Linked DNA regions of Homo sapiens. The protein of the gene in region 1 purifies or fractionates together with the protein of each later gene. This does not show direct contact. Each region holds a gene or a part of one and is shown in the gene's direction. Other genes may lie near its edges. The genes, in order: CCDC40, ANKRD26, HMMR and CYTH1.

What was found.
Region 2: the proteins of CCDC40 (region 1) and ANKRD26 purify together in Homo sapiens (affinity purification with mass spectrometry; 2 studies listed by BioGRID and IntAct, with this or other methods). This does not show direct contact.
Region 3: the proteins of CCDC40 (region 1) and HMMR purify together in Homo sapiens (affinity purification with mass spectrometry; 2 studies listed by BioGRID and IntAct, with this or other methods). This does not show direct contact.
Region 4: the proteins of CCDC40 (region 1) and CYTH1 purify together in Homo sapiens (affinity purification with mass spectrometry; 2 studies listed by BioGRID and IntAct, with this or other methods). This does not show direct contact.

Annotation. Positions count from the first base shown.
Region 1 is NC_000017.11:80,032,111-80,039,850, forward strand, and holds the start of CCDC40 (coiled-coil domain-containing protein 40), read left to right. Parts: upstream 1-4,531; 5' UTR 4,532-4,552; coding exon 4,553-4,581; intron 4,582-6,012; coding exon 6,013-6,076; intron 6,077-7,701; coding exon 7,702-7,740. UniProt on the Homo sapiens protein: Required for assembly of dynein regulatory complex (DRC) and inner dynein arm (IDA) complexes, which are responsible for ciliary beat regulation, thereby playing a central role in motility in cilia and flagella.
Region 2 is NC_000010.11:27,096,934-27,105,232, reverse strand, and holds the start of ANKRD26 (ankyrin repeat domain-containing protein 26), read left to right. Parts: upstream 1-4,738; 5' UTR 4,739-4,906; coding exon 4,907-5,148; intron 5,149-8,299. UniProt on the Homo sapiens protein: Acts as a regulator of adipogenesis. Involved in the regulation of the feeding behavior.
Region 3 is NC_000005.10:163,477,416-163,485,219, forward strand, and holds part of HMMR (hyaluronan mediated motility receptor), read left to right. Parts: intron 1-1,268; coding exon 1,269-1,385; intron 1,386-5,188; exon of another isoform or gene 5,189-5,226; coding exon 5,227-5,373; exon of another isoform or gene 5,374-5,604; coding exon 5,605-5,757; exon of another isoform or gene 5,758-5,852; coding exon 5,853-5,952; intron 5,953-6,653; coding exon 6,654-6,830; intron 6,831-7,804. UniProt on the Homo sapiens protein: Receptor for hyaluronic acid (HA). Involved in cell motility. When hyaluronan binds to HMMR, the phosphorylation of a number of proteins, including PTK2/FAK1 occurs.
Region 4 is NC_000017.11:78,694,637-78,702,440, reverse strand, and holds part of CYTH1 (cytohesin-1), read left to right. Parts: intron 1-200; coding exon 201-319; intron 320-689; coding exon 690-770; intron 771-1,997; coding exon 1,998-2,110; intron 2,111-3,472; coding exon 3,473-3,621; intron 3,622-4,060; coding exon 4,061-4,172; coding exon of another isoform or gene 4,173-4,173; intron 4,174-6,431; coding exon 6,432-6,434; intron 6,435-7,804. UniProt on the Homo sapiens protein: Promotes guanine-nucleotide exchange on ARF1, ARF5 and ARF6. Promotes the activation of ARF factors through replacement of GDP with GTP.

The DNA of each region.
Region 1 (7,740 bases):
ACTCAACATGCAAAAAGCAGTACACGACTGAAGTGTGCAAGCCAGCATGGATGCGGGCTTGGCACCCGCAGTACGTTGGCTTCATAGTGACCAATCCAGAAAGACCACGGAGAAAATACTGCCACATCTCAGCGTCTGCAGCCCATACAGGCAAGCAGACACATGTATCACCTTCCAACGCCTGCACAGACTCACCGCCCAAGGCTCAGCAACAGAAGGGCAGGCCATTCCGACTGGACAGTGGATTTGGATTATTTCTCTTTTCTTTCTGTTATTCATGTGTCAGAAGCCACCACGGGCAGAAATCGAACTTAGTCTTACAGTGGCCCGATTTCTCTCATCCTTTGAGGATGGTTATGTAAGTTCCGAAGACAGAGTAAAGAACGTATTTCAAATCAGATGCCACCAGACAGCTCATAAAAGCAGATTTATTAGAGATGCAACATCAGGTGCTCAAAGGACAGATAGGATAAAAACACCAACAAAGCCAACAGGATAAAAAACACTGCCGCTGAGGTGAACGGAAAAAGGCCTCCAACATCATTGCCCCATATTTTTGGGAAGGGTGCAAATGTGTGCTCTCTCCTGTGCACTGGCCTCATTAACAGCAATATAATGCAAATGCAATACAAATGGTGTACAATTCGATCATAAAATCATCCTCTGCGCTGTCACCTTCACATCCCAGAGCCACCCGCCCCCGGTGCTTAATGCTGGATGAAACAAAGTAGCTAATCTTACAAGAGAATTTAGGCCTGTGACAAAAATCAGGGTCCCTCAGCCAGGGAAGAAGGGGAGCTAAAATTTTCACAGGAGGTGGTGTTGCCAGGCAACCTGATCAGCTCTGCTCCCCATAGCATCCTGCAGGGACCCAGCCCCCGGTCAAGTTGTAAAGATAAGGGTACACATACGCACAAATAGTAAATCCTACATCTGCCTGGAATCACTTTCCACCTCATGGACCACACAAAGGGGAGTGAGGAGTCAAAGCACAAAAACAAAATGTTTTGTGTCAATCTAGTTAAATGTGGAAAATCCAAATAACGGTCATTAATAACAGTGTTAAAATGTTACCATTTGACATTACTTACCACATCCTAAATGGTAACTCAGGATGTGTCAGGAATTCAATGCTTTTCATAATCCTTGCACAAAGTCTCTGAAGTAGGTAGTATAGATGGGGAAATTAAGGCACTGGAGAATTAACTAAGTGCCAGAGGAGTTGGGGTTTTTGTTGTTGTTTTGTTGTTGTTGTTGTTTGGGTTTTTTAGGTTTTTTTTTTAAGCAGAGTCTCACTCTGTCACCCAGGCTAGAATGCAGAGGCTGGTCATGGCTCACTGCAGCCCTGACCTCCCGGGCTCAAGCTATCCTCCCACCTCAGCCACCCAAATAGCTGGGACCATAGGTGCCCACCAGCATGTCCAGCTAATTTGTTCATTTTTTGTAGCGATAGGGTCTCTCTAGGTTGCCTAAGGTGGTCTTGAACTTCTGGGCTCAAGTGATTCTCCCAAAATACAGGATTATAGGTGTGAGCTACTATGCCCAGTCCAGGATTTGTATTTGAAGCCAGCAGTCCATCTTTCTACGCCATGTTCTTAACCACTGCACCTTATTACCCAAAACTGTGGACAGAGACCAGTGCAATTGTAGGTAGGTTCTGCAAACTCAATGGCTTTATCCTGAAGCCTGGGGGATGCTTTCCATACTGAAGTGAACTGAGATTAGCAGCTAGTGGTGACATGGGATTAGTCCCACCTCCTTGCACTGTTATGAACCACTTGGAAGAATGTTTGTATATGAATGGTGGGCACCCTCTGTAAGACAGAGGGCAAAGTTGTACAACGGTTTTCTGGAGCTGGGACGTCCTGGGCCTAAGGCCTAATTCTGTCACTCCTAACTGCATGAGCTTGGGAAGTTACTTCTCTAAGCGTCAGTGTTCCCATCTGTAAATGGGCATAACTGCAGTCCTGACTTCATGAGCTTGTTTTGTGGGTTAAGTGAATTCATGCATGATAATTAGGAACTACTAACGCAATCACCAAAATTGCTAGAGGATTAAATAATTCCACAGATAAAAACTTTTTTTTTCCTTTTTTTTTTTTTTTTTGAGACATAGAATGTTGCTCTATCACCCGGGCTGGGGTGCAGTTGCACATCTTGGCTCACTGCAACCTTCGCCTCCCGAGCTCAAGCGATTCCCCTGTCTCAGCCTCCTGAGTACTGGGATTACAGGCTCACGCCACCACACCGGGCTAATTTTTGTATTTTTAGTAGATATGGGGGGTTTCACCATATTGGCCAGGCTGGTCTCGAACTCCTGACCTCAGGTGATCCGCTCGCCTCGTCCTCCCAAAGTGCTGGGATTACAGCCGTGAGCCACGGCGCCCAGCCATAAAAACTTTCGCCATAAAAACTTTCGTTAGCCATAGTCTCACCATAAACATGCCACTTACAAAAAAATATGCGCACAATAACCACGCTCAGGATGCAAACAACATCCATTAATGAACTTTGTAGTTAATACCAAAAGTTACTCCTCACTTTATTCTTTATTTACAAAAGCTTTCATGGTTCTTAAAAGTGTTTAGTATTCACCAATTTTACTGTTAGCGTTTCTAATGAGGATTTTCTAAAACTGAGGCATGGATTTGAAAAAGTGTTCTGATCAATCAGTAACAGATTTGGAATGGAATCTCCAGCCCCCAGTCTTTGCGCCCACCCTCTGGCAATATGCCGCCTCACGTGAGCATCTTTAAGACGGAGTTCCCTTTTTATTCCAGATAAAAGAATTAGGAGCCTTCTGGTAGAAAAGAAAGCAGATCTTCAGGATCAAGTCGCAGAGGCTGGCCAATCAGCCCAGCTTCTCATTTGAACTTGACCCAGACAGTAAAACAAACTTTACCATAAGGCGAGACTAACTTTTGTTATGTCTTTTCTATTCATTTCCTATTTCTGAATCAAATCTGAACTACTTTGTGGCCAATATACGACACCAGCTTCCGAGTGTGGGAATCACAGGATTTCAGGATTCAGCGGCTTCCGGCAGGATCCCCTAGGTTATGTTTAGCAATCTTCAGTTGCCTTTCCTTTTTTTCTTTCCTTCCTTTCGTTCTTTCTTTCTTTTTCTTTTTTTTTTTTTCCCAAAGGAAAGAACAAGGGAGCCCAGGCGGAACGGAAGTGAGTATCCCGACACGCGGATCTTAAACAGCCCAGACCACCAAGCCCGACAGGCCGGGAAAGCTGAGCGCGCGCTGCTGGGGGGACGCACACTTTGGAGGCTGTGTGGGCGCGCGCCGGCACCCCACAAGTTCTCATCCGTCTGCTCCGCCGATTCAGCCAGACAAAGACCGCAAGTTCCCCGGTCCACCGCTCCAGACAGGCGGGGACCAGTCTCCCCGAATTAGGCCCATTCCGGGCCCGGGCGCCCTCACTCGCCGCGGGGAAAAGTCCCCAGGTGCCCCTCCGTGATCCAGGTCCTCCCACAACGCTCCCGCTCCTGCTGGCGCCCCGCACCCCGAGGACGGCGGCCGGACCCCGGCCCCTCCCCGGTCCCGCGGCTGCAGGCCCACGCGCCCCACGCGCCCCGCGCGCCCCCGCCCCAGCTCCGCCGAGGGGGCGCTGCTCGCTGCGCGGTGGACCCCTCGGACCCCGCCCCCGCGGCCCCGTCCGGGCCCCGATACCCACCCGGGTCCCGCTGCGGGGGCCGGATTCGCGCCGGCTCCGAGAGCCGCCACCGTCGCCTCCGCCGCTGCCGCCGCCAGTGAGGCGCGGCGGGGCGGGGACGCGCGGGGAGGCCCGGCCCCCGGCCCGCCCCCGGGCCCGCCCCCGGCCCGGCCCCTGCCTGCCCCCGCCGGTCTCCCCGCCCACCTTCTGGCCCAGCCCTGGGCCCAAGCCTCTAGTTCCCTGCTGGCCCTCCCTCAGGCCTCGCCGCGTCCCGGCCTCGGGGACTGTGCCCCGTCCCGAGCCTGGCGTCCCCAAAGGAAAGGCAGGGCTCCTCGGACGCTCCGCGTGCGCGCTGGCCCTCCGCTGCCGCCCTCTGCAGGGAGATTTCTCCTATTTCGGACTAGGAAGGGAAGATACGCTCCGGAAGACCCCCCGGGCGTCCATGCAAGGAGTCTCCGTAGGACCCCTGGAGAAGGGCACCGGAGCCCCCTAGGGCAGGAGATGGAAAAGCGCTCGCCATGCGCGGGGTCCCCGGCCCCCGGTGCCCCCAGCCCGCCTGCCATTCCCGGGCGCTTAGCAGTCCGGGGTCCCCAGGTGCCCGGCAGGTCCCTTCGGGACCTCGAGCCGCCCGCTGGGCACACGCTGACGCCGCTGTCGCTTTACAGAAATTGAGCGCAGCCGAGGCGGGACCCGGGCGCAGAGAGCGATAAAGGAAAAGCATGGTCGTGCTCTAATCATTACAGTCTAAGGGACGACACGTCGAGACGGCGCGCGCCTCTGCGTGCGTGGAGATGGCACAAAGGCCGCGCCGCCCCCGGCGGCCCCCGCCCTCGCAGCGCGCGTGGTCCCGGCCCGGCCGGATGTTGACAGCGTCGCCTAGCAACGGGAAATGGCGGAACCGGGCGGCGCGGCGGGCCGGTAAGCCGGGCCGAGGGGCAGCGGGTCTTGGAGTCGCCAGGCCGCGCTCTCCGTTCACCGCTCCAGGTGGCCCCCGCGTCGGCTCCTGCCTCGCCCCTTCGCCTCCACTCCCCCTTCCTCTCGCCTGTGTCCCTTCTCTCGCCATTTTGCTGGCCTTTCCCGTCCACTGCGTTCAGCCCCTCACCCCCCCGCCAACCCTTCTCACTTCTCCCCTCCTGTCCCTTTGTCCTCTCTCGGCCTCCCTCTTTCCCCTACTCCAAGCGCGCGACTCCCTCTAAAACCCGGGACCGCTCACTCTGCAGTCACCATGGCAACCACTCTGCGTGGCGGTCCCTGCGCGCAGTCCTCCTAAGAGTAGAGGGCTCTGCAGGGCGCGGGGCTGTTGGATACCGCCCCTGACCTTGCTCCGGGGCCACTCGCTGTGGCCGGAGACCAGCCCGGCCCCGCGCCTCCCTCCTGCAAGGACAGATCCCCTCTCGCAGGCTTGGGGGTGACCCGCGATGGGAGGGGTCCCTGCGGTTAGGCGGCCCGCGATAGTCCGCGGTCACCGTCCTGGGGCCTGGGTGGAAGCACTGAGCGCGCACAGGGAGGGCGGCTGAGTGAAGATCCCTGCCACCGGGCCTCTGCTCGCTTAGGCTCTGTTTAAAAGGATAGAAACGATTGGAAAGAGTTTGGCCTTTTTACCTTAGACACATCGGTATTGTTTCATTTTTTTAAAGGTGGGTCTGTATGTATTGACATGGAAAGACTAAAGGTATTATTAATAAAACGATAGGCATAAATGTAAAAGGGTAGGTATACTATGATCTCTAATTCAGGGTGTGTGTGTGTGTTTAAAACATAGAAAAATGTTGAAAGAATGTGGTCCTAAATGTTATCAATGATTATCTTGGGAAGGAAAGGGAAGATCACAGGGAACTGTCACTGTCTGTCTCTTTGAACATATCTATATTCCTTTGACAGATAAAAATAGCTTGAATCTTTAATTTTTTAAAAAAGATATACATATATATATATATATATATATATTCCTGTGCTACGTAAATCGTGGAGAAACTCAGAGTCCCCAGAACACTTACTCTGATCGCGCTACTTTCTCTACGTTGTATTTCTTTTCCCCAGTTTTGTCCCAGACACAAGTTATATTTGAGGTGACTTTTCTGGGGTGATCTAATCCTGCTGTTCCTTCGATGTTTTAATAATTATATTTTTCATTCATTCATGGAGCTTTGCTTTTGTGGCATCTCCGCCACCTGACAGGCATGATATAGTGCTATGGTTCCTGACAAACAGGACAAAGACGTGACAACAGCCTGGGGGTGGCAGAGAAGTAACAAGTAAATAAACAGATGTGCAGAATTCAGGAGGGGATAAGGACCAAGAAAAAGAAAGCTGTTGCTTGAAACTGTTCAATTGTTTCTCTAAAACCAGGTCCCATCCGGAAGATGGATCGGCTTCTGAGGGAGAGAAGGAAGGGAATAATGAAAGCCACATGGTAAAATTCCCTATGGGCAGTTATTCCGGGCTTATATTTACTAGGAATTAAAGAGAATCAGAGTACGGGCACTGTGGCTCACGCCTGTAATCCCAACACTTTGGGAGGCCAAGGCAGGTGGATCACATGAGGTTAGGAGTTTGAGACAAGCCTGGCCAACATGGTAAAACCCCATCTCTACTAAAAATATAAAAATTAGCCGGGCGTGGTGGTGCGCACATGTAGTCCCAGCTACTCGGGAGGCTGAGGCAGGACAGTGGCTTGAACTCGGGAGACAGAGGTTGCAGTGAGCCAAGATCACACCATTGCACTCCAGCCTGGGTGACCAGTGAAACTCTATCTCAAAAATAAATAAATAGGCCGGGCACGGTGACTCACGCCTGTAATTCCAGCACTTTGGGAGGCCGAGGCAGGCAGATCACGAGGTCAAAAGATCGAGACTATCCTGGCCAACATGGTGAAACCCTGTCTCTACTAAAAATACAAAAATTTGCCAGGCATGGTGGTTCACGCCTGTAGTCCCAGCTACTCGGGAGGCTGAGGCAGGAGAATGGCTTGAACCTGGGAGATGGAGGTTGCAGTGAGCCGAGATTGTGCCACTGCACTCAGCCTGGCGACAGAGCGAGACTCCATCTCAAAAAATAGATAAATAAAATTAAATTAAAAATAAATAAATAAAGAGAATTAGGACTTGGTCAAGTATATTGTATGATGACATTATCTTGCACCAGAACAAACTCAATTCAGTTGAAGAGAGACTCATTTTCTTCCTACCCCATTCTACAGTGTCAGTGATTAGTCAGGGATGCAAAGGATGTCCAACTTTGGGTTGCCCTGAGTTTTTCGGAACTCATTTCCTGTAACAAAGGATGCAAAAATGATTATGAAAAGCAGAGAGGGCCAGGCATGGTGGCTCACGCCTGTGGTCCCGGCACTTTGGGAGGCTGAGGCGGATGGATCTCTTGAGGCCAGGAATTCAAGACCAGCCTGGCCAACATGGTGAAACCCCATCCCTACTAAAAATGGAAAAATTAACTGGGCATGGTGGTACACACCTGTAGTCCCAGCTACTTGGGAGGCTGAAGCAGGAGAATCGCTTGAACCCAGGAGGTGGAAGTTGCAGTGAGCCGAGATCACGCCACCGCACTCCAGCCTGGGCAGCAGAGTGAGCCCCTGTCACAAAAAAAAATAAAAAAAGAAAGAACAGATAAACTGAAGCATGAAACATGATTTTTTTTTTTTTTGAGACAGAGTCTCACTCTGTCTCCAGGCTGAAGTTCAGTGGCACGATCTCAGCTCACTGCAACCTCTGCCTTCCGAGTTTAAGCAATTCTCCTGCCCCAGCCTTCTAAGTAGCTGGGATTACAGGTGTGCACCACCATACCCAGCTAATTTTTGTATTTTTAGTAGAGACGGGGTTTCACCATGTTGGTCAGGATGGTCTCAATCTCCTGACCTCGTGATCTGCCTGCCTCAGCCTCCCAAAGTGAAACATGATCTCTTAGTGATGCTGAGAAGGGTATAAATGCAGTTTTCCCATTGATATAATTACACTATAAAGAATAAAACCTCACAAGGTCCTTTATACTTTGTTTCCTGATTTTTTTCCTGCCACACCTTTACAGGTGTCACCACCAGAGAAGGATGATGGCCAGAAAGGTGAA
Region 2 (8,299 bases), on another chromosome or scaffold:
TTCCTTGAGTACCCTGAGCTTTGGCCCCAGCCAGTAACCCTTTTAACATGGACACCATGGTCTTCGTGAGCAGGCTTGTAACAACTTCCTGCCCTCAAGCCTTGTACTGCTGTGTGGGGAACTGGGCTTCCTGCCTCCTCACACCATCTATGCACGTATCAGATTGGGCCCCTGGTACTCCAGAAGGGCGTTTGCTGTTTGCTCGATGACTGTGGACCAGCTCTGGCCTTGGCAACCACACCTTCTCCAAGGACATCTGAATCCCCAGCCTTGTGAAGCCACTCATTTTAAGTTGTTCATACTTTGGGTGTAATCTCATCCTAAAGGATTCTTTAGATTTTTCTTTTCACTTTTATACTACTGTTACAGTTAATAATAATTTTTCTTTGAGATGCGGTCTTTTTTTTTTTTTTTGAGATGGAGTCTCACTCTGTTGCCAGGCTGGAGTGCAATGGCGCAATCTCAGCTCACTGCAACCTCTGACTCCCTGGTTCAAGCAATTCTCCTGCCTCAGCCTCCCGAGTAGCTGGGATTACAGGAATGCACCACCACACCCAGCTAATTTTTGTATTTTTAGTAGAGATGGGATTTCACCGTGTTGGCCAGGCTGGTCTCGAACTCCTGACCTCGTGATCCACCCACCTCGGTCTCCCAAAGTGCTGGGATTACAGGTGTGAGCCACTATGCCCGGCCCGAGATGGGTCTTGCTATATTCCCCAGGCTGGTCTCAAACTCCTGTGCTCAAGTGATCCTCCTGCCTTAGCCTCCCAAGAAGCTGGAACTACAGGTATGTGCCACTGAGCCTGGATAATTTTTTTTTTTTTTTTTTTTTTGAGATGGAGTCTTGCTATGTTACCCAGGCTGGAGTGCAGAGGCACGATCTCAGCTCCCTGCAACCTCTGCCTCCTGGGTTCAAGCGATCCTCCCACCTCAGCCTCCTGAATAGCTGGGATTACAGCCATGCAACACCATGCCTGGCTAATTTTTTTGTATTTTTAGTAGAGACAGGGTTTCACCATGTTTGCCAGGCTGGTGTTGAACTCCTAACCTCAAGTGATCCGCCCACCTCAGCCTCCCAAAGTGCTGGGATTACAGGCATGAGCCACCATGTCTGGGCATGGCTAATTTTTTTTTTTTTTTTTTTTTTTGAGACAGTCTTGCTCTGTCATCCAGGCTGGATGGAGTGCAATGGCACAATCTTGGCTCACTGCAACCTCCGCCTCCTGGATTCAAGTTATTCTCCTGCCTCAGCCTCCCGAGTAGCTGGGATTACAGGCGCCTGCCACCACACCTGGCTAATTTTTGTATTTTTAGTAGAGATGGGGTTTCACCATGTCGGCCAGGCTGCTCTCCAACTTCTGACCCCAAGTGATCCACCCACCTCGGTCTCCCAAGGTATGTAATCTCTGCTGGGATTACAGGTGTGAGACACCACGCCCGGCACTGGCCATGGGTAATTTTAAAACACTTTTTGGAGACATGTTCTGGCTATGCTGCCTAGGCTGGTCTCAAACCCCTGGCTTCAAGCCATCTTCATGCCTCAGCCTCCCAAGTAATTGGGATTACAGGCACAAGCTACCATGCCAAACTTCTATAGCAAATAATTATTTGTATTAAATTGTTCTTGTTCAGGTTACTAAGTGGTTTCTCTCCTGATTGAAACCTGGCAGACACATTATCTCTTTCTAGGATGTACTTTTTTTTTCTTTCCATCTTCTCCCCTCTCACAAACTCCTGTTTATTCTTTAAGTCTCAGCTTTTAAAATTTAATTTAATTTGATTTTAGAGACAGGGTCTTGCTGTGTTGCCCAGGCTGATCTCGAACTCCTGAGCTCAAGTGATCCGCCAGCCTCAGCCTTTCAAAGTGCTGGGATTACAGGTGTACACCACCATGCCCAGCCCTAAATTTCAGCTTTGACATCACTTCTTCATGTGCCTCTCTCCATGACCTACCACCCTTCTCTTGACATGATTCTATAGGCCCTCTGTGCTCCCCCTTAATGTGGCACTAAACATGAAATTTGCCTCCCTCCCTGAAGTGAAGAATAACACATCTGTTGTTTCCTCACTGACTCTCACAATACCTAGAATAAAGAAGGTTCCCAGAACATGTTTCTGTTTAATGTGGTGGCCTCCTTACTGTGATCATCCCAGGTCTTGGATCTCCAGGAGATACAGGTAGATGGGCCTCAACACACTTGAGCCCTTATGTTCTAATCATGGTTTAATTATAGTTTCATTATTCCTCAATAGACACAGCAGAATGCATGGGAAGACACATTTCAAAGAATGAATGAACCAGTTTTGGAAAAGGGTTTGATGAGTTTCTTGGTAACTCTTAAAAGGAGAAAACACGTGTGACAGCCTTGAACTGGAATTAAAGAGCTTTATCTGGCCAGGCACGGTGGCTCACGCCTGTAATCCCAGCATTTTGGGAGGCCAAGGCGGGCGGATCACGAGGTCAGGAGATTGAGACCATCCTGGCTAACACAGTGAAACCCCGTCTCTACTAAACAAAATACAAAAAGTAGCCGGGTGTGGTGGTGGGCGCCTGTAGTCCCAGCTACTCAGGAGGCTGAGGCAGGAGAATGGTGTGAACCAAGGAGGCGGAGCTTGCAGTGAGCCGAGATATCGTGCCACTGCACTCCAGCCTGGGAGACAGAGCGAGACTTCATCTCAAAAAAAAAAAAAAAAAGAGCTTTATCTAAGGGATTTGCTAAGGCATTCATATCTCAGTTGATTTTCACTATAAAACAAATATTCCCCTAACACATTAATTTCATTGACATAATTATTAAATGAGGGTATAGGAAAACTGAACCAGGGCATTACTTTAGCCTTAGATAGGCATGGGAGTTCCAAGTGACAACTTTCTAGAGGGTGTCTGCTCTGGATCTGAAATTAATTTCCATATGAATGGGAGATCTTAGCTTTCAATGAACTCCAAGAAACTTTTTGGGGATCCAGCATTTGGCTGATGAATTCAACACCTCAGAGCTGGCCTAACATATAGTCCTTGGGTATCTCTGGTCTATACAAAAACACTATAGTCAACCAAATCTCTACAACTTACCTGGAGAGTGGTGTGTGATTCCTATATCCATCCAGACTGGTAATGTCTTTGGCCTTAATTTCAGGCTGCATTAGGAAATGTCAGAGTCCTCTGTTCAGAGTCAGTGTTCTCCACACTTGAGTATTTTTTGTTTGTTTTTGTTTTTGTTTTTTGAGAGAGAGTCGTGGTCTCCATCCAAGAGTCTCCACTCCAGAGGCAGTGGTGTGAACCTCTGCCTCCCAGGTTCAAGTGTTTCTCCTGCCTCAGCCTCCCGAGTAGCTGGGACTACAGGCATGCACCACCACACCCAGCTAATTTTTGTATTTTTAGTAGAGACGGGGTTTCACCACGTTGGCCTGGTCTCGAACTCCTGACCTCAGGTAATCCACCCACCTCGGCCTCCTAAAGTGCTGGGACTTGACTAGCTTCATAGATCACCTTGGGGAGTGTTGAGGAGACAACATAACTTTCTAGCTGGGGTAGTGTAGGAGGAAAATTCTTGGTGACGATAGTGGAAACCACTCTCCCACATCAAAACCATTTGATCTAGCTAAGCTGGAGAGGCCTGAGAAGTGTTGTTTTGTTTTTGCTCATTTCTCACTTGGCAATAAAGACGCCTGTTCTGGGGCCAGCCACCTCCTCCACAAGGGACCCTAGAGCTGTCCAGAGCTATGGAGGTGCATTCCAGCAGCAATTTCTGCTGAGACTCCACTTGACGTCTGCGTTGCTAATTCCAATTTGTTGTCAAATTATTCAATCTAGGCTGGGCGTGGTGGTTCACACCTGTAATCCCAGCACTTTGGGAGGCTGAGATGGGAGCATCATTTGAGCCCTGGAGTCGGAGACCAGCCTGGGCAACATGGTGAGACCCTGTCTCTACAAAAAATGCAAAAATAGCCGGGCGTGGTGGCTTGCGTCTGTAGTCTCAGCTACTCACTCAGGAGGCTGAGGTGGGAGTATCGTTGAGCCCAGGAGGTGGAGACTGCAGTGAGCCGTGATTGCACCACTGCACTACAGTCTGGGCGACAAAGCGAGACTCTGTTGGGGAAAAAAAAAAAAAAAAGAAGAAAGAGATGTAACCTTGGAAAATCAAAAGCAAAAAATAAAACATAAGGCTGGGCCAAAGGCAGAGGGGTGGGGGAAGGAGGCATGCAGAAATGCGTTCTCATTTCTTCTGGAGAATGTGCATTGGTTTCTCCTCGTAAGTTTGCACTTGACACATATTGCCACGATCTCCGAAATCCTGTGCCCTCTGCACTTGACACATATGCCACGATCTCCGAAATCCTGTGCCCTCTGTTGTTGCATCTGTTAAGTTCTCATGGAGACCAGATGGCACCCAAAGGGACATGGAAGGGGAATAAACTGAGAGATAGGGAGATTCAGAGAGTTTCTTAGGGGAGTTTTCTCGGAGAAGAGGCTTTCAGCATCTTAAAACTCCACGCTACTCCAGTCCCAGTCATGCGTAAAGGCTGCTTCCCCACAGGCGCGAGGCTTCTTTTCGCAAACGTCCTGAACACTCAGCCAGACTCCCACCGACATTTGTTTGACAGGAACGCAGGGCTCGTCCCAGTCGCCGAGATTTGCGAGGTCTGGGCCTTGCACATGCGCATGGAGCACACTTGACCACTGGGCCTTCGTGCGCACGCGCGTGGACCTTGCCATCTGAGGTGCGCATGCGCACTTGTGTCTAGCGGGATCGCTTGCTTGGTAACCCGGAGGGAGAGATTGGAAACCGCGGAGTTTCCTTTGGGAGGCTGCGGCCAGCCGGGGCTGACTTGTTATGTTGGGCTCCGGAGGCCGTTAAGAGCCGAGAGAGACATGAGGTGTCTCTGAAGCCCGGTCGCCTGGGCCATGAAGAAGATTTTTAGTAAGAAGGGCGAGTCGCCCTTGGGCTCCTTCGCGCGGCGGCAGAGGAGCAGCGCGGGAGGCGGGGGCGAGCCGGGGGAGGGCGCCTACTCGCAGCCCGGCTACCACGTCCGAGACCGAGATCTCGGCAAGATCCACAAAGCTGCCAGCGCGGGTAATGTGGCGAAAGTGCAGCAGATCCTTTTGCTCAGGAAGAATGGCTTGAACGATAGAGACAAGATGAACAGGTAATAGGCGTCGCAAGCCCGGACTGAGTGCCACTGGAGTAGGCGGGCAGGAAGAGGGGCCCCTTTTGTGGGAGCCACCCAGGGCCTGGATCAGCCTCCCGCGGGCTCCGTAGCCCCTGGGACGGTGACACCTTGCAGGGCTCCAGCGCCCAGGCCGCCTTTCTGAGCAGAAAAACAAAAACAGAACTCTAGCTGGTTTCCGATCCCCCCGAAATCCCTTAGAGAGCACTTAAGTGACAATTTTAAAGTGAATTAACGAACAAAAGCACGTACAGCGTTTTATTTTTAATGTACACATTTAAGATACAATGTCATACACTTATGGAAAGGTGCATAATGAGATAAGCAGTTTCCATAATATAGCAACTTCTGGGTTAAAAATTATTTCTATAAAATCTGTTATTCGTCAGGCGCGGTGGCTCGCGCCTGTAATCACAGCACTTCGGGAGGCTGAGGCGGGAGGATTGCTTGAGGCCAGGAGTTCAAGGCCAGCCTGGGCATTATAGCGAGACCCCCCCCCCCAACTCTAATAGTCTCAGCTACTTGGAAGGCTGAGGCAGGAGCATCACTTGAGCCCAGGAGTTCTAGGCTGCAGTGAGGTATGTCAGTGACAACAGAGCAAGACCCTATCTTTCAAAAAGAAAAAGAAATAAAATGCCTTTAGGAAATAGATATACAAGTAATTTGTTTTTCTCAGCATTGCTTAAGCAGTGTATTAAGGAGAACCCATAGAATGGATTTTGTGAATAAATGTCAGTGCATGATAATATGTGACCATTGAAAGTGGCAGTAGAGGCCAGGCGTGGTGGCTCGCGCCTGTAAACCCAGCATTTTAGGAGACCAAGGCAAGCGGATATCCTGAGGTCAGAAGTTCGAGACCAGCTTGGCCAACATGGTGAAACCCCGTCTCTACTAAAAATACAAAAATTAGCTAGGCATGGTGGTGGGAGCCTGTAATCTCAGCTACTCCGAAGACTGAGGCAGGAGAATCGCTTGAACCTGGGAGGCAGAGGTTGCAGTGAGCCAAGATCGTGCCATTGCACTCCAGCCTGGGCAACAAGAGCAAAACTCTGTCTCAAAAAAAAGAAAGAAAGAAAAGAAAGTGGCAATAGATACAGAAGTGTATTGGCATGTGAGGATATACTTTGGTATCTCAAGTGAGAAAAAAAGTTTGATTATACATACAGACTGTGGTCTTGTGTTAGCTGAAAATATGTACAAAACGTGGTAAAATTTGGCCAGGCGCGGTGTCTCACGCCTGTAATCCCAGCACTTCGGGAGGCCGAGGCGGGCGGATCACGAGGTCAGGAGATCGAGACCATCCTGGCTAACACAGTGAAACCCCGTTTCTACTAAAAATACAAAAAAATCAGCCGGGCATGGTGGCGGGCGCCTGTAGTCCCAGCTACTCCGGAGGCTGAGGCAGGAGAATGGCGTGAACCCGGGAGGCGGAGCTTGCAGTGAGCGGAGATCACGCCACTGCACTCCAGCCTGGGCGACAGAGCAAGACTCCGTCTCAAAAAAAAAAAAAAGTGGTAAAATTTGTTATTTCTGGGCATTTGTATAATAAGTCAAACTTTTTTCTTTATGATTTCTGCAATGAGTATGTATAAAAGTTCTAGTGAAAATTTATTATTAATGAAGTAATCCTTGGGAAGAGAGGAATATGAATCTTGCACAGATAAAAATCATTTCCCACTTTCTTTTTTTTCTTTTTTTGGTGGATTGCTATCGTCTGACAACTTTTATCCTTTTCAGAAGTAAAGGGGATCTTGGCTGGGCACCTGTGGCTCATGACTGTAATCCCAGCACTTTGGGAGGCCCAGGCAGGAGGATTGCTTGACCCAGGAGTTCGAAACTAGCCTGGGCAACATAGCAAGACCCTGTCTCTATTAAAAATGAAAGGTAAAGCAGATCTTTGTTCTTGCCACCAAAAATTAAGAAGATAAAAAATAAAAATAAAAAAAGAAAAAGTAAAGGGTATCTTTTTATCTGTATTTATAGATTTTATGTATACATTTTATCATATACATGTTTTTATTATAGATTTATTATATATGCAAACAGGTACAATCATTTTATTTTAGTTGTGTCCTTATGACAATAAAAATACCAAATATAAATGATAATTAGGCTGGATGCAATGGCTTAGGCCTGTAATCCCAGCACTTTGGGAGGCTGAGGAGGGTGGATCACTTAAGTCCAGGAATTCAAGACCATCCTGGCCAACGTAGTGAAACCCTTCTGTAGTAAAAATACAAATATTAGCCAGGTGTGGTGGTACACACCTGTAGTCTCAGGTACTTGGGAGACTGAGGCAGGCAGTAGAATAGCGTGCACCTGGGAGGCGGAGGGTACAGTGAGCTGAGATTGCACCACTGCAATCCACCCTGGGTGACAGAGCGAGACTCCATCTCAAAAAAACAAAACAAAACAAAACAAAAAAAAGATAAATATTATTGCAAAAGAATAAAAGAATTACTCTACTTTATAAGAATTTTATTTAAAAATATTGAACTCCCTAATGATTTTTCCATTCTTTCAATCCATTTATTCATCAATCATAACCTGAATACCTGTTATGTAGCAGACATAGTCTACTATCTCTTTTTTCTTTTTTTCTTAGACAGAGTCTCCCTCTGTTGCCCAGGCTGGAGTGCAGTGGCCAGATCTCAGCTTTACTGCAACCTCTGCTTCCTGGGTTCAAGCGATTCTCCTGCCTCAGTCTCCTGAGTAGCTGGGACAGCTAATTTTTTTTTTTTTTTGTATTTCTAGTAGAGACAGGGTTTCACTGTGTTAGCCAGGGTGGTCTCGATCTCCTGACCTTGTGATCTGCCCACCTCGGCCTCCCAAAGTGCTGAGATTACAGGCTTGAGCCACCGCGCCTGGCCTTTTTTGTTTTTGAGGTGAAGTCTCGCTTCTTCGCCCAGGCTGGAGTGCAATGGTGTGATCTCGGCTCAATGCAACATCCATCTCCTGGGTTCAAGCAATTCTCCTGCCTCAGCCTCCCTAGTAGCTGAGATTCCAGGCACGTGCCACCATGCCTGGCTAATTTTTGTATTTTTAGTATAGATGGGGTTCTACCCTGTTGGCCAGGCTGGTCTCAAACTCCTAACCTCAAGTGATCTGCCTGCCTTGGCCTCCCAAAGTG
Region 3 (7,804 bases), on another chromosome or scaffold:
ATACTTTTGTTATTAATCTTTTCTGTTTTCTTATGATTAGTGATGCAAATGAACAGCAAGGTTTTTCATATCCCTGCTTTTGGGGGAACAATACAAAATTGTAATTAGGGGTGTTGTTCTATACTACAGCCAATCTCAGGGAACAGGAATCTTGGGAAAATAAGATAATGTCATTTTAAGAGAGGAAAGAAAATTGAGATAATTTTTTATTCCAACTCAAAAAACTGTGGTCCAATGGTCAAGAGATAAGGATTTTTATTACTAATTCTGTTAGCTAGCTGGTTGATTCTGAGCAAAACAATCTTAGTTTCTTTGATCTTCTACTTCATTAGATATAAAAGAGTTTTATTAGATGGTCTCTAAGATCCCTTCTAGCCTGGAAATTTCAAGCTTAAGAGAAAAACAAACTAAGAATTGAAAATAATTCCTCTAGGGGACAGGGAAGAAAATATTTTTATTATAAACTCTTTAGTCATATTTGATTGCTCTTGCTGTGGTGTGTATATTTTTGAAATCCGGCACTTGTTACAGAATGAATTTGATCAGCTATTTTTCTTATCTCAGTGTCCAACTTAGTCTATAAGTACACAATGCTTATTTACAATTTTTAGTTCTGTATATTCTTTAAAAGATCTCTCATAAGCTCATATGCATATCTAAAAATTTTATCACCACTTTGGAAATATATTATTTCCAAAATATCCCTGAGATTTAATAGCATATGTATATAAAAATGACTTAAAACCCATTCTGTCTATGCAAAATAATCCATTAAAGAAGTTATTAAGTCTTTCAGTAATAGAGTATTATGTGGGTTATTCATATAATCAGAATAAATCCACAAAGTCTTGTAACTCTGTAGTTTAAAATGAAGTGGCTTTAATTGTTCATGGTATTTCTCAAGTGTCTAAATGGAGAGAATGAAACTTTATTCAATCCAGATGTTTTTTGACTGGTAATCTTTTGCAGTCTTTAGTCCTGGCTAGTATCTTAAGATTTGGTTTTATAGTCTTTTATATCCTACTACCTTCTTCACCCAAATTTTTAAAGTAAAATAAGCAGGAAAGATAAGTTGAAGCTAGTAGAAAAATGCATAAAAAACATGCTTTCGAGGTAAGTCATAAATTAGGATCTGAGCTATTTAGCAGGTAATGCAGTGGTGAAGATATGAGCTATATGATTCACAGTTTCAAAGGTAAATACTATTTTCTTTCTTAGGGTAGTAATTGTAGGTGGCATTTTATCTTTCAATTATTTCTTTTTCTTAGGAAGGAGGCTGAACTGGAGAAAAGTAGTGCTGCTCATACCCAGGCCACCCTGCTTTTGCAGGAAAAGTATGACAGTATGGTGCAAAGCCTTGAAGATGTTACTGCTCAATTTGAAAGGTATTTTTCTTGGGAGCCTGCACTCTTAAATATGATGTGTGCAGAAAGGGGTGTTTACCCCAGGAAATATGTGAGCAAAGCAGTCACACAAAGGATGATTCATACTAGTTTAAATTCCATAATCACCAACCGTAAGTGGGCATTTAGCATTATCTGGTAATCTTATTGTATTTATATAATTCCCCTTTATAATTTATAGAAATTCCCCTTTCTCACCATCCACTTCAACTTTTATGTGCTGAGCCAGGTGCGGCAGCATATGCCTGTAGTCCTAGCCACTGCATAAGCTGAGGTGGGAGGATCAAGTCATGTACTTAGAAGCATTTGGTGCTTCTGCCCTACTCTCTTGATGTTATCATTTTCATAAAGAATTCAGAAGTTTTTATCTCTTGCTAAACCTATAAAGAGACCCACATTTATACTCATCCTATCTTCCCACCTATTACAGATGAAATGTCCTAGTCTTTTAATCTTCAGTGACCTCATTCTATCATTTTGTTTTCTCATAATTTGAAACCTTTTTACTGGAATTTTTCCAATCAATATTAAAACATGTTAATGTACATCTGTCTGTAAAATATATTAATTAGCTGGCCACTGTGGCTCATACCAGTAATCCCAGTGCTTTGGGAGACCAAGGCAGGAGGATTGCTTGAGGTCAGGAGTTTGAGACCAGCCTGGGCAATAGAGTAAGACCTTGTTTCTACAAAAAAAAATATTAAGAATTAGCCAGGCATTGTGGCACATGCTACTTGGGAGGCTGAGGGCAGGAGGATCACCTGAGCCCAGGAGTTCCAGGCTGCACTGAGCTAAGATCACACCACTGCGCTCCAGCCTGGGTGACAGAGCAAGACTGTCTCAAAAACAAACGAAAAATAAATAAAATACATAAGTTGTTTTAAATACTTCTCTGACCCTAACTTCCTTTTGTAGCTGTCTCACACCACCAGTCATTCCCTTCTTAACCCCAAATTCTACTCCTTTTCAGTCCTTTTCCTTCTCCTCCTTTTTCTTCTCTTGACAGAGAAGATTGTCTCTATATCCACTTCCTCACCTCCCATGCCTTCTACTTATTTTCTCCTTAAATAAAAAGTTTATTTTGGGTGGAACTACAAATTACAAAGGCCAATATAATGAATACCTATATATTAATGTTAACATTTTTATTTATCACATTTACTTTAGCTCATTTTGGGGGAGAGTTTCCTTTCTTTTATTTAATAAATACAAAAGAATGCATAACATGTACATAAACTGTAGAGCTTGAAGATAAAACTGACATGCATGAACCTATAAAAGACAACCAGTAAGCCAAAAGATTTTCAACAACTTAGTATCCATATGTAAGTTCCTCTGCCATCCCATGAAAATGGGACAGATAACACTGTCCTGAAGTCTACACTAATTATTTCCTTGCTTTTTCCCCCCTGTGTATTATAATTTTATGACACGTATATCCATACAAATAATGCATTATGTAATTTTCCTTCTCCTTGAACTTTACCAAAAAATGTCATCATAGTATATGCCGTTTCCTGGGACTTATTTTTTCATTCTGCATTATGTGTGTTTTCAGGATTGAATTGTGTTGTCTGAGGCTATGGTTTGTTGATAGTCACTGCTATGAGTATTTTATTGTATGAATATACCACAACTTATTTATTCATTCTTTGGACTTTGAGTTGTTTCCCATTTGGTTAGTTATTATTAGTTATTTTGTGACTATAAGAATACATGTATGTAAGAATTTCTCTAAAGCCAAAGGTATATGAATGTTCAACTCTAAAACTTAATATCAAATCACTTTCCAATGTGGGAGTAAGAATCTACACTCCCACTAGTGTTGTATAAGTTTCCATTTATCTTCTTTGCCAAAGCTTGTTAGACTTCTTAAACTTTGCCAGTGTACTTAGTGTAAAATGGCTTCTTATTGTGGATAATTCATCTTTCCTTTTCCATAAAATGCTTGTTTATGACTTTTGTTTATTTGTCTATAGGGTTATCATCTTTTCCTCATTGATTTGTAGAGGTTTTCTTTATCAGCCATATGGGTTACAGGTATCTTCTGCCAGTTTAGCTTATTTTTTTATTTTCTTTTTGGTTTCTTCTGATGAGTGGAAATTCTTGATTTCAATATGGTTAAAATATTTATCTGTATGTGGGTACTTTTGCTTCTCATTTAAGAACTTCTTTCTATCTCAAGGTGTAAAGATATTCAACCAGTTTTCTTCTAAAAGTCTTAAAATTTCACTTTCCATTTTTCCACCTAGAACTGATTTCTGTGTGTGTAGCAATATAGGGATCAAATTCATTTTTTGTTTTCCCTATGGACAACCAACTGCCTAGTTTAATTTAATTCATTAAATTGTACCTTGTTTCCCCAGTGATCTGTTCCCACATGTGATACATTATGACAGACACATAGATAAATAATTTATAAGTGTATATGTTTTATTTATAATTTTTATTGTATCAGAACATATAAATCATATAAATATATGTAAATTTTATATATATATATTTATTGCTAATATCAATCCTGTAAAGGAATTTCCCTTCTCGTTAGTTTGAAGAATAGTGCTTCAGGGGGTTTTTATCTATTCTGTGATTTTAGTCACTATCCATATACTCGTGGCATTAAAATTTATTTCATCAAACCAGACCTTTCTTTACAGCTCCATATTCACATATCCAGTTACCCACTTGACATCTTCAAGTAGATATCACACTGTCTTTTAATATTAACCTGTCCAAACCAACTCTTGATCCTTCCATTGCTTTCTACCCCTAGTCTCTCATTGTTTTTATTGTAATCAGTGACATCATCTTCCCAGCTTTTCATTCTGTAAATCTTAGAGTCATCCTTCATCATTCTCTCTTCCTTACCCCCAATATTCAGTCTATCTCTTGAATTTTCCTACTCTGCTTCCAAAAGAGATCTTGTGTCTTTCCATTGCCAGCTCCTTAGTCTAAGCCTCCTTTATCACTCACCTGGGCTGATAAATAATTGTTTTGGAGTTGATCCTTCAATTTTCCATTCTTTTCCCCTGCCCTAATCCATCTTCCTCATAGCTCTAGAGTGAGCTACACATTTAATTAAACACCTTTTTATTTTATTTATTTGTTTATTTTGAGTCGGAGTTTCGCTCTTGTTGCCCAGGCTGGAGTGCAATGGCACTATCTCAGGTCACTGCAACCTCCCCCTCCCAGGTTCAAGTGATTCTCCTGCCTCAGCCTCCCGAGTAGCTGAGATTACAGGTGTCCACCACCACGCTTGGCTAATTTTTTGTGTTTTTAGTAGTGATGGGGTTTCACCATGTTGGTCATGCTGGTCTCGAACTCCTGACCTCAGGTGATCCACCCGTCTCGGCCTCCCAGAGTGCTGGGATTACAGGCATGAGCCACCACGCCCAGCCTACTTGGACACCTTTAATGGTTCCCGTCTGTCCGCCAGGTAAGCCCACTGTGCCCTGCGGTGATGACCCTCATGCCACCAGCTTCTGCTCCAGCCTTTCTTACTCATTAGGCTCTAGTCTCACTTCTTATTTTTTAAATTGTGAGTAATTTTCATGCTTGGTAGTTGATTTCTTTTCCATCTCTGTATGCATACTTCCTGCACCTAGTAGGCACTTGATTTTTTTTTCTTTGAATACACAGCAGATGCCATGTAAACTCATTAGTACTTGCCTCAGAACACTGAATTCTTACCTGTGTTAAATGCATGAATACATTAAAAACTTTTTAGTTTTACTTAGAAGTATATAAAGTGTAAACTAATCAGTTATGATTGTCATACGCAATAGTTAGAAAACTACTTTGACTTTTTTTTCTTTTTAATAAGCTATAAAGCGTTAACAGCCAGTGAGATAGAAGATCTTAAGCTGGAGAACTCATCATTACAGGAAAAAGCGGCCAAGGCTGGGAAAAATGCAGAGGATGTTCAGCATCAGATTTTGGCAACTGAGAGCTCAAATCAAGAATATGTAAGGTATATAGAGCAAATAATGGCCTTAGAACCATTAAGACAATTTAATGTTGAAAGCCAGCTAGTAACTGTCCCTTGGCTTGCTTTTGGCCATCTTATACTGCAAATTAAGAATTTACTCAGTTAAAAAATGACACTTCTTGAAGAGTTCCTTGAGGTTTAAAGAAAAAAAAAGGAAAAATTAATGAAAGTGGCTATAAAATGTTTAGTGACCTCTTCTCTCTCAAACCAAAGGATGCTTCTAGATCTGCAGACCAAGTCAGCACTAAAGGAAACAGAAATTAAAGAAATCACAGTTTCTTTTCTTCAAAAAATAACTGATTTGCAGAACCAACTCAAGCAACAGGAGGAAGACTTTAGAAAACAGCTGGAAGATGAAGAAGGAAGGTAATCTATGATTAGAACCTGAGTGCCTTGTTAACTCAGTTACGATGTGATTTTTTAAATAACTATGTTTTTCTCAATTTAATTCTTCCATGCAGAAAAGCTGAAAAAGAAAATACAACAGCAGAATTAACTGAAGAAATTAACAAGTGGCGTCTCCTCTATGAAGAACTATATAATAAAACAAAACCTTTTCAGGTTTGTCAGTTAGGAGTAAACTTACTTGTGTTTATTTTAGGGACTCACTTTGTTCCCTATTATAGTGAGGACAGTGACTCGGGTTTTCTGCAAGATCATTTTGCTCTGCACTTACAGTGCCAATTTAGCTCACTATTAAAGGTTTATACATTTTATTAAATTATGCATAATTTTTTCCCACATTATTGAAGTATAATTGACAAATTTAATTGACATAATTTTTTCAATGGACCCTTTGTGGTTTAAAAAAAAACTTTGTAATGTGGAACTTAAAAGTTTGGCTCAGAGGGCTTGCCTGGTATGAGCTTTTGATAATTAACCTATTTTAATTTGTGGTATGACTTATTGCAAATACTCATTGTTTCTCAATATACTGATCTTTTAAAAGAAAAAAGAATAAATGCTGATTTTGGAACTTAGAAGTACAGTATTGGTTATAATGTGGTAATCTAACTGATACAGATAAAACTGGCCAGCTGGCTTTTTTACCTTGTTTCTTTTCCTCTGTTTTAATGATCTTTAAAATGAAAAATACAAAGTTTAAAAGATTCTCATAGAGAATCTATGGAGAGCCCTGAGAATATGTGAACATACCTTGTTTTCATTTGTGTTTTTAATTTTCTTTAGTGTTTATGGTTTATATGAAACTAGTAAGATCAAACTGTTTTAAGTCTTAACTTTATTTAAAAAATCTTTTTCAGCTACAACTAGATGCTTTTGAAGTAGAAAAACAGGCATTGTTGAATGAACATGGTGCAGCTCAGGAACAGCTAAATAAAATAAGAGATTCATATGCTAAATTATTGGGTCATCAGAATTTGAAACAAAAAATCAAGCATGTTGTGAAGTTGAAAGATGAAAATAGCCAACTCAAATCGGTTTGTAAAATGACTTTTCATTTTATTAAAGATATTGGAGTGGGGGTTATTCTAACTATAATACTTAAATAAAATGAATATCTTTGGTATCAGAAAAAAATAACTGTTTATAGAGGAAAATTGAGCTGTGATTTAGTGGATTTATTTTAGAGTGTTGACCAGATGGGCATTCAATGTTCTAAAGTTTTCTAGCTACCTTCTTAATATATTGAAAATTACTTGAGTAATTGGATGAATTCATTAAGCTTTACATATCTATTTCCATTTGCAAAACTGCAAACTCCTTGATGTAAAACCATAAAGAGAAGCAGTGTTCAAAAATATTTGGGCATTTAAATTTTTTAACATATGTATTGAGATATAATTGACAACCCATACAATCCACCCATTGAAAGTGGACAATTCAGTGTTTTTTAGTATACTCACAGATTTGTGCAACCATCACCATAGTCAATTTTAGGACATTTTCATCACCTCAAAATGAAACCTTGTTATCCTTTTCCTAACACTCTCCTATCTCCTCACCCCACCCCACCCTTCAGCCCTAAGAAACCACTAATCTACTTTCTGTCTCTGTTGATTTCCCTATTGTGGACCTGGCATATTCATGGATTCAAATAATATGTGGCCTTTTGTTACTGGCTTCTTTCAGTCAATTAGCATAATATTTTCAAGATTCACCTGTGTTGTAGCATGGAGAGTACTTTATTTTTTTTATAGCCTAATAATTCATTATGTGGGTATACCACATTTTATTTATTCGTTTGTCAGTTGATAAACACTTGTTTGCACATTTTTGGCTATTATGAATAATGCTACCATAAACATTCATGTACAAGTTTTTGTATGGACATTTGTTTTTTCCTGGGACATATTATTTCCCTGGGAAATAATAGGAGGGAAATTGCCAGATCATTTGATAACTCTACATTTAATCATTTCAGGAAGTATCAGACTACATTCAGATGAGATCG
Region 4 (7,804 bases), 1.3 Mb from region 1:
TCATGTTGCCGTTTTGTAGAGCAAATGTTATGCACTAAGCCCTTGTTCCTAAACTGTGACTCCCCGGCTTTATAGGTCACTTAGCAAGTATTTATTAAATATTCCAGTGCACCCACACCCATTTCTTCCTGTGCCCTTTCCCCTTCTTTTCAACTGTTTCCCAGCAAAGCATCATTGGCGTCTTTGTTGTCTTTTTCTAGGGGATCCAGTTCTTAATAGAGAACGACCTCCTGAAGAACACTTGTGAAGACATTGCCCAGTTCTTATATAAAGGCGAAGGGCTCAACAAGACAGCCATCGGCGACTACCTAGGGGAGAGGTAAGGCCTTGGGGATTATGCGCATGCTAGGGAAGGCTGTTCAGGAACGACACAAAGAAACAAACTCCCAAATACTCTGAAGTTCTTGGAGGGGTTTTTGCCTTAAAGCATCTGTAGCCCCACTGGAGTTGAGGGGAGGCTTTTCTGGGGAATAGTGATGGGTCTTTTCTGGGGGTCATGGAGACATCTTGCTTGTTCAGCCAGTCAGCAGAGCTAGCCAGTCTTCTTGCGGACAGTGTGCACAAGTGGCTGTCTGGGCAGGAGCCACAGGACCACAGGACGCAGTGTAGGAGACATGGCCTGGCTGGAGATTCTCAGTGTTGGTGCCTGACTCCTGCTTTCTCTCCCATTTTTTGTCTTTTCTCGATAGAGATGAGTTTAATATCCAGGTTCTTCATGCATTTGTGGAGCTGCATGAGTTCACTGATCTTAATCTCGTCCAGGCACTACGGTGAGTATTCTTGAGGTGAGCCCCTTTGGAAGGAGTGGGAGGCTAGCCTTTGATCATGAGTCTGTCCTGGGGGGCATTTTATTGAAATTATATCTTTGGGTATGATTTGAATATTTTGAAGTATTTTGGAGGGAAGAAATCTATTGGTCTCTGACTGGGAATGACTGGATGGTCAAGGGGAATTCAATTCTGTTACGTTCTGGAGGCCGATTCTGTAACACTCTTCCTTGAGTCTTATATTTGAGGTTTTAGAAATTGATGAATACTTAAATTTTGAAATTTTTCAGTTTAGAAAATCCTTTAATTTCTTGCCCTGGAATAAGTAGTTATACATTTCATTTTGGAAAGAAAAAAGTAAACCTTAATTTTTTATTAAATCTGTTACCTCATGCCTTTTAAGAAACTGTCATTCTGTATTTTCACTGCTGTAGGTGTAAATAATGACTTCATCTTTTGTGCTATCATTTAGCTGGATGGAAACAATCCACAATTAAACCTGTCAGCTGTGGGTCTTTCTTTCTTTGACTTAAAGGGATCGATTGTTAATGCTTTGACAAGACAATCTTCTCTTTTTCTGCCACCCATATTGTTTCCGGAAATAGCGTTTGTTTAAAATGAGCATTATCTATGTTTCAGTCTTGTATATTATTCTGAGGAGGGAAACCACTCCTCAGTAGGGATTGTTTCCCTCCTAATTTTTCACTTTTTCCTAAGAAAAATTTTACTTTTGATTAAGGTAACAGTGGTGTGGATGGCAACTTTGCATCTGTTCAGAGTTACAGTAACAGAAGGCTGCAGCCCAGCAGGGTTCCCTTTGCACTTTGATGTTAAAAAATCATTGGCAGTGGTCAGGCACCGTGGCTCACACCTGTACTCCCAGCACTTTGGGAGGCTGAGGCGGGTGGATCACTTGAGGCCAGGAGTTTGAGACCAGCCTGGCCAGCATGGTGAAACCCCGTCTCTACTAAAAATACAAAAAATTAGCCGGGCATGGTGGCGTGTGCCTGTAGTCCCGGCTACTCGGGAGGCTGAGGCAGAAGATTGCCTGAACCCGGCAGGCAGAGGTTGCAGTGAGCCAAGATCACGCCACTGCACTCCAGCCTGGGTGACAGAGTGAGACTCCATCTCAAAAAAAAAAAGAAAAAAAAAATCATTGGCAGTTTAACAATTCATAGAGAAATAAATTGCCTCCCCAAGTTCTGGAACACTCTGTCTTTACCCACTCAGGCAGTTCCTGTGGAGCTTCCGGCTACCCGGAGAGGCCCAGAAGATCGACCGGATGATGGAGGCGTTTGCCCAGCGATATTGTCAGTGCAATAATGGCGTGTTCCAGTCCACGGGTAAATACGATCATTCATCCTAGTTTATGATGGGCGTTTTACACTGGATTATTTTCTTGGCACCAGATAATTTCTAAAACAAAAGGGCTGAGATTCATGCCTAGGAACGTTTACTCAATGATAGTTATAATAGTAAAATGTTGGAAATAACCTGAAAGTCTGACATTAAGGCACTATGAATTTAAATTGTGGTACCTCTGAACTACGAAATACACAGCTATTAAAAACCATGTTTTAGCTGCATGCAGTGGCTCACACTGGTAATGTCAGCACCTTGGGTGGGAGGCCGAGGTGAGAGGATTGCTTGAGGCTAGGAGTTTGAGACCAGCCTGGGCAACATTATGAGACCCTTTCTCCAAAAAAATTTTTAAAAATTAGCCAGGTGTGGTGGCTTATGCCTGTAGTCCCGGCTATTTGTGAGGCTGAGGCAGGAGGATCTCTTGAGCCCAAGAGTTTACGACTACACGCAGTGAGCTATGATTGCACCACAGCACTCCAAGCCTGGGTGACAGAGTGAGACCCTGTCTCAAAACAAAAACTAAAGAAACCCATATTGTTACAAAGAATTTTTATTGACATAGGAGAATGATATTAAGATTAGCAAAAAAGCATGTGTATGTATTTGTTTGTTTCCAGTTTTGTTACAGTATATATCTGTGAGATAAATATGTGGTGAGTTATACATAGTCATATTTACGTAGAGGAAATAAAGCAAAATAAATTATTGCTAGATAGTGGGATTATGGGTCATTACAGGTCATTTTGTTTTAAACACATTGTGTTTTTCAGAGTTTCTACAGTGTGTGTATTCTCCTTTCCAATCTGAAAAAATAAACAGCTTTAAGTCTTGAATACTTTATATACTTTTTCGTGCCTTGCTCCTTTCAGACAGCAGTGTGCCCTGGAGTGTACCCGTACATGTGGATTCATCTCATTCTTTTGAGAACATGTTTTTTTTTTTTTTTCTGAGATGGAGTCTCACTCTGTCGCCCAGGCTGGAGTGCAGTGGCGCTATCTCGGCTCACTGCAAGCTCTGCCTCCCAGGTTCAAGCAATTCTCCTGCCTCGGCCTCCCAAGTTGCTGGGATTACAGGCGCGTGCAGCCACGCCTGGCTAATTTTTGTATTTTAGTAGAGACGGGTTTTCACCATGTGGGTCAGGCTAGGCTTGAACTCCTGACCTCATGATCTGCCTGCCTTGGCCTCCCAAAGTGCAGGGATTACAGGTGTAAGCCACTGCATCTGGCCGAGAACATGGTTTTTTATTCCTGATTTCATCTGATACCACTCTTGCTCTTGCGGGTGGGATGTTTCTGAACATCTGAGCATGCAACGGCTCCCCTTTGCTTTTCTCTCATCTTTAGATACTTGTTACGTCCTCTCCTTTGCCATCATCATGTTGAACACCAGTCTGCACAACCCCAATGTCAAAGATAAGCCCACTGTGGAGAGGTTCATTGCCATGAACCGAGGCATCAATGATGGGGGAGACCTGCCGGAGGAGCTCCTCCGGGTAAGCAAGGAAGAATGGTCTTCATTCAAGTCAAGAAAGAGTTCACTGGGAACAGGATCGTCTTTTGTAGGAAGGAAGAAAAAACATACAATTTATCAAGGGTCTCCTCTTTTAATTTGTTTAACCATGTGAATTTCATTAAGAAAGTGGTAGTAAGGCCCAGCTAGGGAATCAGGGAGGGGACAGTGGTTTGTAAACATGAAACTAAAAGCTTGAATAGAAGTCAGGCTGCTTCTTTATTTTCCTAATTGGGAAGGCTTATTTATTTTGTCACTGTGAGCTGCCTGAAAGCAGAAATGGTCATAATCTTCTAGTCTCAGCATCTAGCAGGCTTGGCTTACTATAGGCACATGAATGCTTGTGGAATGAATGAAGAGAAAGGGGAGGAGGAAAAAATATTTCTAGAATCAGAGACATAAATTGTCATCTTTTATCCCAGAATCTCTATGAGAGCATAAAAAATGAACCCTTTAAAATCCCAGAAGACGACGGGAATGACCTCACTCACACTTTCTTCAATCCAGACCGAGAAGGCTGGCTATTGAAACTCGGTAAGCGCACCTCTGAGTCAGGGCTCCTAAAGCTGAGACTTAGGAAGAAAGGCGGTGTGTGTGCGTGTGTGCGTGCGTGCGTGTGTGCGCGTGTGCGTGTTTGTGCGTGTGCATGTGTGCGCGTGCGTGTGTGTGCACGCGCATGCATGTTCACACACATTCATGGACACACACGCACCATGTAGGAAAGGGGGTGGCTTATAGAGGACTCCAGAGAGACTTTGGTATGAGTTCTGTTCTAACAAAGGTCGGCTTCCAAAAGGGAAGTGACTTCATAGTCATTGCCCCCATGGGACACAGAGACTACTGGGGACAGACTTACTCCACCATAAATATTGCCCACATGTGTCTGTGCTCCACATTTTTACCCTTGAATTGGTTGACCAGGTTTTGTTTCAAGGCAGTTCCCTGAGCACCTGGTCCGTTTGCCTTCCCTGTCCCCATAACCACTGGGAGGGTGGCCGACCTTGTCCATCTTTCTACTTCCCATCCCACAGATTTGTACCTGGCGCTCCTGCCCCCACCCCAGTGCATCGTCACTTCCTTCTGCATCTGGCTCCCCCACAGGCAGTGTGCATGGCAAGCCTAGAGCCCTTGGCTGCAGCTCAATCCACAGCACTCTTACTCATTCTTGGGCAGTGGTTTTTTTTTTTTCTTTTTTTTTTCCCCTCCTTTTCAATCTGAATCAGCCACATTAATTATTTTGTTCATTTAGAAAAGCTGAAAATGCATTTCTCTTCCCTTTGCCAGAAGTGATGAGCTTGTATTGCTGAGATTTGTGGTCATGCCTTGCCGTGAAGGTGACAGGGTAATCAATAGGAAAGACTTTAGTAGGGTTTTCATACACATTCATGTCCACATGTGTTTACTTTATTAATGGTTTCAGAACATAGAGCTCTAGACTCTCTGGACATAATGATGTCCTTTTTTTTTTTTTTTTTTTGGACACTAGCAGGGTACTTTCCTCTGTTGCCTTCTGCTTTAGCCTTTGATGAGTTGGGTTCTCACATTAGCAGGGGCTGTTCCGTCCTATACCAGCCCAACTGCTTGCCCCAGTGATTAGAAGTCAGTACTCTCTTGGTCATTACTGACACATCTGGGAAGGCTAAAATGGAATCCTTTATTTCTGACTAGGTCAGATAGCAGTAGACTTTATATTTCCTTTTAAAGTCATATCCCAAGTCCTTGTGCTTATACATAATGACTTAATTCATAAATTCCCCTTACAGCACCACTTCACCGATCAGTTTTAAATATCTCTTGAATTGGCCATCATTTTATATATCTTTAAGCCCCCAGAATCTTTGAAGTTAAGGCTCTAAAATTACTAACCCCATAGGCAGCCTTCCCTTCCACATTCCTATTGCCAAGTGGATGGAGTTGAAAGGAAACCTACTGGAAACGTTTAAAGTGTGTTCAAGTTTGGATTTACTTCCCCCTACAGCGAGATTTGTTTAAATGCTAATACTAAGTGTTAGCTTTGACAGCCCAGATACTAAAATTAGAACAGTACAAAGATTATCTTGGTTCTTAGACCAGGATGACATGCAAATTCATGAGGCATCTCGTATTTTAAAAAAGAGAAAATTTAACCAAGTGTGGGACTCAGTTTTAGCTCATTGCATTACTTTTTCTAAACCTCCATCAAATCCTTCTAGACTCTGAATATTGTGTTTTCATTGTAGCACACTTAGTATCACTCTTTGTGTTTATGTGCTGCAGAAGGCAGGGCTTCCAGCCGTCTGTAGCTGTGTGTATATGTCTGTGTATGCATATAGCCATAAGAATGTGTATTCTTGTGTATACACATCAGTACATGTGTACTCATGGGTATATGTGTGTGCATTCTTACACACACTTTAAAAAGTGACAGCCATCTCAAGAAAGACATTTAATTTTCCCTGAAATAACCTTAGCTTTCTTTGCTCTGATTCTGGATATACTAGTAAACATTGGCTTTGTAAAAGCCGATTTGTGGCATCTTTGGGGCCAGGTTTCCAGTAGTGCCTCAAATCTTGCCTTGATGAGGTGGAACGTGGCATGTAAGAGCCCCTCGTTCACGTGCCAGACAGTAGTGGGATCATTTGCCCGTTGAGTGTTTTTAGTTCAGCTCTCTCCCCAGGCAGGCATGAATGTGACTGATACATTGCACTTTAAGATTAAGGAATCGGGTTTAATTTCTTTGTTTTAATTTTCTTTTCTCCCTCATTTGTATGTTTCCATGATTTTGGCTCTCCTTTTCCTTGCCCCAAACTCCAGGAGGTATGTAACCCTCAGCCTGCTCGCTCGCTCTGCTAGGCCACTGTCATTACTGCAGCATTTTCTGATTTCGTTATTTTTGGTTATTTTGTTTTTTAATTGCCGGTGGTAGTGTTAATGCTGCTTCTAACTTATTGTACAGTCCCTAGGGAACTGGTCAGGATCAGGGGTTTGGAGCAATTTTCGTTTTTCTTTTTTGGAGGAGTATATGTTATATTCATTACTGAATGCAGTAATGCAAGAAAACATACTAAGAGTGGGTTTGTAAAAGCAGAGGAAGTTTCCATGACATTTTCACTTGGAATTATTGGCTAAGACATGCGCTATGTTTGATATTCAATTTGACGTCCATTAATCAGCCTGATTGAAAGTTAATCTCTGACGTGGGGAAGAGGAGAAAGAAGAGAAGGAAGTCTTTCTTTTTTCTTCTTTTTTCAAGCTGAGACTTACTCCAGAGAGAACAAAGTCTTGACTTCCCAAAGCTATGGAAAGCTTCTGATTTACCATGATGGAAAAGCAAACTAGGGAAAGAACTAAATTAGATGATACTTAAGACATTTGCCTTTGCACGAAAAGGGGAAATGGTATTTCCTAAACTCAAAATGATACCGAGTGAAGGTGAAAAAAACAAGTCCAAACCAAAAAACCCTCCCTGAAGTCCTCGTGTTTAGTTTCCTGGGGATCAGAGAAGGGTATTAACAGCCTCGGCTCTGTTGTTATGTTTTGTTTTGCTCCCTCGCTTTTTCAGCGAGTCCTCGTTAAAGCCCCGAATCGGTCTCCTGGTTATGGTTTTGGTGTCTCCTCTCCATTTGCTGGTTTTTTTGGGGAAACATATTTTCTTAGCCCAAGACCCCTCAGGTTTGTGCCTAAGCATTCCCTGAGCAGTAGCTACACTTAAAAAGAACAACCCCAAACACGCACAGTTACTGAGATGCTTCAGGGACTTGTCAGGTTGTTCTCAACTGTAGGGGAAGATGGCATCCGGCCTTGATGTCTCGGGGAGGTCACAGGAGGCCTGAGGAGCCGTGCAGTGGGAGGTGGTCCTGTGAGTTCCACAGGGACTGTCCTAGGCGCACATTGATCTGTCTGCTTGTTTCATGTCTGCTTTTCTTTCCACGTGGAAATGTTCCCCGTGGGCCCACAGTGATGCTTTATGGTAGAGGTCTCTGTAATGCAACAAATTGTCCAGGCATAATAACCAAGCTTTTGTAATCAGGCAGAGAATTTCTTCTGGCTTTGCTTTTTCTCCTTGATTTCTTTCCATCTTGTTTCTTTTAGCATCTGACTCGCTTTTTCCATGATCTCCTATGTCCGAAGGGTTCCCCGGGTAGTGTCCTGTGATGGAGCGCATGGGAGGTCAGCATGGGTTGATG